Regions from separate parts of the Homo sapiens genome. Here region 1 is linked to region 2. A link means that fine-mapping ties the variant in region 2 to the expression of a gene that starts in the linked region. Tissue or cell type: whole blood. Region 2 holds a variant in brackets; the other region holds the start of a gene. Each region is shown on its reference strand, or each on the opposite one.

Region 1 (2,981 bases), not on the chromosome of region 2:
GACCTGTATGCCTGACCGTTTCCCTGCCTCCTGCTTCAGCCTCCCGAGGCCGAAGCCTCAGCCCCTCCAGACAGGCCGCTGACATTCAGCAGTTTGGCCTCTTTCCCTCTGTCTGTGCTTGTGTTGTTGACCTCCTGATGGCTTGTCATCCTGAATAAAATATAATAATAAATTTTGTATAAATAGGAGTTCAGGGGCTGGTTTGTTTTTTTTTTCCCCCCCAAACTCAAATTCTGGATTTAGGTCTAACAGGAGGCTGGACTGGAGCGGTTCACAGCAAGATGCTGGGCTCGGCTGTGAAGGGGGGAGTATGAGGCCCCCTTCCTATTCAGGGCTTTGGGGTAGATAGCCCCTGGACTCAGTGGAGACCTGAGGCAGGGCTGGGCTTTCACACTCCGCTGCCTTGACCACATTTGCTGCTTTTTCCACAAAACTACTTGGAAGCTCTCGCCTCCTTTCCACAGTTTTGGGAGCAGTTGCCCTTTCCCGGGTCTAGGAACTCTGTGGCTTGTGCTGAGCGGCTGCGGTGTCCAGCCCAGCCCTTTAAGCTTTCTGTGTCAGTCCTGGTCAGGAAAACAAGCACACAGGCAGGCAGTTTGTGTACAGCCGGGCGGAGGCCAGAGACCGGCTGCCTACCTGTCACCTCTCGCCTGGAGCGGGCCACTGCCAAGTTGGCCCCATGACTCCAAACGGGCGGAGCCTGGATTGGGCCTGTGGGGAGGGCTCCACTCAAGTGACCACTTGCAGCCCTGAACCTCAGCTCTTGGACGCCTGGCTGGAAGTTGGCTGTCTTGTTTCCTGTGACCTTGGGGGTGGAAAGGACAGAGCCCAGGCGACCTAGGGCACTATCTCCCTACCCCACGCCTTCTCCCTTCCTCGTTCCTCCCTACCCTTATCGCTTCTACCCCGCCCACACCGCCCTAAACGGCTTCCTGGGGCGGAACTGTTTCGCTTTTCCCCGTCCCAGTGGAGGGTGGGGTGGGGGGGTCGCAGCCCTAAGCCTCTGGGAGACATGGAGCCCAGGAGGGCGGCGCCCGGGGTGCCTGGCTGGGGGTCTCGGGAGGCCGCGGGGTCGGCATCGGCCGCGGAGCTTGTGTACCATCTAGCCGGGGCCCTGGGCACTGAGCTGCAGGATCTGGCGCGCCGTTTCGGGCCGGAGGCGGCGGCCGGGCTGGTGCCGCTAGTGGTGCGGGCGCTGGAGCTCTTGGAACAGGCTGCCGTGGGGCCCGCCCCGGACTCGGTGAGTCATGGCCCTCCCTTCGCCACCCACGGGGCCGGCAGGGCCGAAGCCTGAGACCCGGGTCTCCCCAGCTGCAGGTGTCGGCGCAGCCGGCGGAGCAGGAGCTGCGGCGGCTGCGGGAGGAGAACGAGCGCCTCCGCAGGGAGCTGCGCGCGGGGCCACAGGGTAAGCGCAGCCCCGGCCAGGGCAGGGCGGGTGACGACCTGCTCGGGTCCTCCCCTCCCTCCCGCGGGCCGCGCGCCGCCGCCGCTAAGAACGCCCCTTCCTCAGAGGAGCGCGCGCTGCTGCGGCAGCTCAAGGAGGTCACGGACCGACAGCGGGACGAACTCCGGGCGCACAACCGCGACCTGCGGCAGCGCGGCCAGGAGACCGAGGCGGTGAGGGCGGGGCGGGGCTCTGGGGCGGGGCGGGGGCGGAGCGTGGCAGGCGCTGGGCGGGGCTCCGGGGGCGGGGGCGGAGCGAGGCAGGCGCTGGGCGGGGCTCCGGGGGGCCCTCGGTGCCCCGCCCACCCCACCCTTTGCTCCGCTCCCAGTTGCAGGAGCAGCTGCAGCGCCTCCTGCTGGTGAACGCTGAGCTGCGGCACAAGCTGGCGGCCATGCAGACCCAGCTGCGCGCCGCGCAGGACCGCGAGAGGGAGCGCCAGCAGCCTGGCGAAGCCGCGACTCCGCAGGCTAAAGAGCGAGCGCGGGGGCAGGCCGGGCGGCCCGGGCACCAGCACGGACAGGAGCCCGAATGGGCGACCGCCGGCGCAGGCGCCCCAGGGAACCCTGAGGACCCGGTGAGTGCCGTATGAGGGCAAGGACCCAGCCCAGGACGCAGCGTCCAGCCCTCGGTGGGCACTCAAGCAAGGTTTGCATGCTGCACAGCAGGTCGGCCAGGAAGCGGGGAGGTGGCAGACAGATCTGCGCCCCCGGCCGGCCTCGGCCCCCGCTCTCAGCTGGAGCACTGCTCTGTTATCTGTTAGGGCACCCTTGTCCCCCAAGTCTCCCGGCCCGTCACTTCCTCTAGCATTCCCATGATGGCCCTGGGGCGGGGGAACGCCAGCCGAGGCGACCCTCTGACTGTGCCTGTCCTTCCAAAGGCGGAGGCCGCGCAGCAGCTCGGGCGCCCCTCGGAGGCAGGGCAGTGCCGCTTCAGTCGGGAGGAGTTTGAGCAGATCCTTCAGGAGCGGAATGAACTCAAAGCCAAAGTGTTCCTGCTCAAGGAGGAACTGGCCTACTTCCAGCGGTGAGGACGCTGGGAAGCCGGGGGGCCTCCGATCACCCCACCTCATTCTCCAGTCATTGACATGTCCACAGTGACATGTGCCAGGCCTGCGCTGGGAACTGGGAGGACATGAATTGTACAGCCCTTGCCCTCCTGCAATGTCATCCAGACAGGGGAGAGGGACAGTACAAAGGGTTGCAGCTGCAGCAGCCAGGGAATCTCTCCTAGGAGGGGGCCACGGGGCCACCTAATTTAAGGTCTGAGGGTGTCAGCAAGGCAGAGCGCTTCCCGTGTTCAGGGAAGAGCTGCGTGCACAGGTACCAGGAGTGAGGACTGCGGCTGGCATCTCCACTGCTGGCATCCCCATGGCTGGCATCACCAGGGCTTTCTCCCTCCCTGCCCCTTTTCTTTAGGGAGCTGCTCACAGACCACCGGGTCCCCGGCCTTCTGCTCGAGGCCATGAAGGTGGCTGTCCGGAAGCAGCGGAAGAAGATCAAGGCCAAGATGTTAGGGACACCAGAGGAAGCAGAGAGCA
Region 2 (2,500 bases):
CAAACTATTGAACAAATTTCAAAGACAAGAAAATAAAAGGAAGTAATTGAATATTTCAAAGCAGTAAATTGGTGGAGGATTAGAGAAATGGGTTTAGGGTGTAACTTCTTCTCTTCTAAGGTCACAAAAAGAAGAGCACCTACCCAAGATCAGAAAACAAGCAAGGTGGCAGCAGCTGGAGTGTTAGCTACAGAGTGGATCTTTCACTGGGCTTTCTGTGAGGATGGAAATACTCAGATGGCCATCACAACATGAGGTTGGACCGTGTAGCATGTGTGCTCTGTGTGGAAACATCAATATCCTTTTCAGGGAATGTGCATAATTTATATACACGGTATATGCATATACTTATATGTGCAGTGAAGTCAGAGAACTCACTGCCCTTGGTGTTAAATGACCAAGGTTCAGATTTCAGGTTAGTTATTTCCAAGCTGCCCAGTACTTGGTGAAACCTCTCATCTCTCTTAACCTTAGTTTTCTCGAAATCTGTAACATGGTATGAGCAGATTTCTCACTGCATAGAGGGTTAGTAAAGTGGTGAATATTTGCGCTGAATAGGGGCTTAGTTCAATGTTGCCCACATCATTCTAATATCTAACTTATTTATTTCAAATGCAGAAAGGTAAAATAGGCCTCTCTGCTACCAGCTTCCCCTCCCCACCTGTGTTATCACCTGGAAGCAGTTCCAGAGAAGTGGGGGACACCACAGACTCTGGAGCGAGACTGCTTCACCATTTCCAAGCTGGGTGACCTAAGGAGGCAATTTACCTAACCTCCCTTTGCCTCAGTTTTTCCACCTATAACGTGGGAATAATTATAGGAACTCCATCTTAGAGTTCTTAAGAAGAGTTCCAAGGTTCCAGGGTTCCAAGCTTTCTTGGAACCCTGCCTGGCACATAGCAAGTGTTCAGAAAATGTAAGTTATTACAGCATTGTTATTATTTTTGTATGCTGAGTGCTTTCTTGTGGCTGCGTTTCAAGGGTTGCATTGGCCCCCACCCCCATCATATTCCAGCTGCCAAGCCGGGGAACCCAGATCTGTAGGGCAGCGAGGAGAGAGGGTTGTTGTCTTTCAGTGATGTCAGGGGAG[C/T]TCCTTATCAATAATTGAACAGTTTTTCCAGGAACCCAATCTAGAGCATGCAGTGCCCTGGCTGCAGCAGGGCCTGGCTGGCTGGCGTCCCCGGAAGGCTCTGGGCAGAGGGAATTGTTATCTTGGTGCTGGTCCTGCCTGCTCTGTGGGGGAAGGGATCTTGTTGCTGGTGGCACGGCTTCTGTTGGAGGGTGGGACTCAAGACTCAAGCCTGGGGCAGCGTTCTTAATCTTCACCCAGGCCCTCCTGCACTGTCCTGCTCCAACAGTCCTTAGACTAGCCTTATTCTTCACCCAGTTTGCTCAAGCCAGGAGCCTGGAAGTCATTCTGAACACCTCCCCTCCCTCGCTGCTCACTTTTAAGCTGTCGACAACTCTGCATTATTTTGCTTTTAAACATGTCCCAAATTTGCCCCATTCTTCCTTTCTCATTGCCACTGCCCTCATTCAGCTATGTCTGGGCTTCTACAGCACTCCACTGGCTTCCCAGGTCCCCACCCTGCAACCTTTCCCCACTCCCCTCTTTCTAAAACACACACACACACACACACACACACACACACACACACAGAGAGAGAGAGAGAGAGAGAGAGAGAGAGAGAGAGAGAGAGAAATCTTTCTAAAATGCAAATCCGGTCATGTCACCTCCATGCCTAAACCCTTCAATGCCTCTGTGTTGCCCTTAGGGAAATATATTCAACCCCTTTATGTGATCCTCAAGATCTGTTGCCAACCTCTGTCCAACTTCATCCTGAGCCCTTCTGGTCTTCATTTGTGACCTTCTGGCCATATTGCCCTGTGTTATTCCCTGTCCCGGGTAAGCTACATCTCACCTCTGGGCCCTTACCCTTCTTGTTCTCCCTGCCATGACTGGCTCCTACACATCTTGAAGTTCTCAGATAATGTCACCTCCTCGTAGAAGCTTTTCCTGATCCTCCTGTCTAAAGCAGTGACCACATACCCCACCCTTTTCCCCTGCCCCAGCCCTTGAATATTTCCACCATGAGATAATCCCAACAACAATACCCTTGTCAACCTACCAGCTTTCTTATTTATCATCTGTCTCTTGCACTAGAAGGTGAGCCCCTTGGGGACACACAGATCCTGCCTGACTTGCTCATAGCTACATCCTCAGGACATCCAGTAGACCCTGGTGTCTGGCAGGTGGGCAGCAAATATTTATTCATTGGGCAAATGCAAGCAGGGAGGTTGTGTGGTGGACTGGGGTGAGTGCTGGGCTTGGTTCCCCAGCTCTGTTACCTGTTCCCTGTGTGCAATGAAGTATGTCATCATCGTAACTCTCTGAAGATTGCAGCTGGAGTCAGGAGATCTTGGGTCTAGTCAGACTCTGCCACTTCCCTGCTGTGTGAGCTTGGGCAGCTAAACTTATCTCTCTGAGCCTCCTTTATTC

What was found. PIP is the estimated chance that this variant, and not a neighbour inherited with it, causes the effect.
Region 1: it holds the start of RILP, and the variant in region 2 is the best candidate, but not a certain one, in a credible set for the expression of RILP in whole blood (TOPMed, PIP 0.56).

Annotation. Positions count from the first base shown.
Region 1 is chr17:1,647,836-1,650,816 of GRCh38, reverse strand. It overlaps RILP (Rab interacting lysosomal protein), which reads left to right and starts at 951. Exons shown (of 8, transcript NM_031430.3): 1 at 951-1,240; 2 at 1,312-1,405; 3 at 1,511-1,617; 4 at 1,773-2,018; 5 at 2,322-2,467; 6 at 2,860-2,981. The coding sequence starts at 1,013. It overlaps PRPF8 (pre-mRNA processing factor 8), which reads left to right. Exons shown (of 43, transcript NM_006445.4): 43 at 1-188. The coding sequence ends at 15. RefSeq lists a silencer at 1,348-1,642.
Region 2 is chr5:173,859,439-173,861,938 of GRCh38, reverse strand. No RefSeq gene overlaps it. Among named protein-coding and RNA genes, the nearest start is that of CPEB4, 28 kb to the left of the region's middle. RefSeq lists a cis regulatory region at 940-1,407. The variant C/T (reference allele first, on the strand shown) is at 1,091.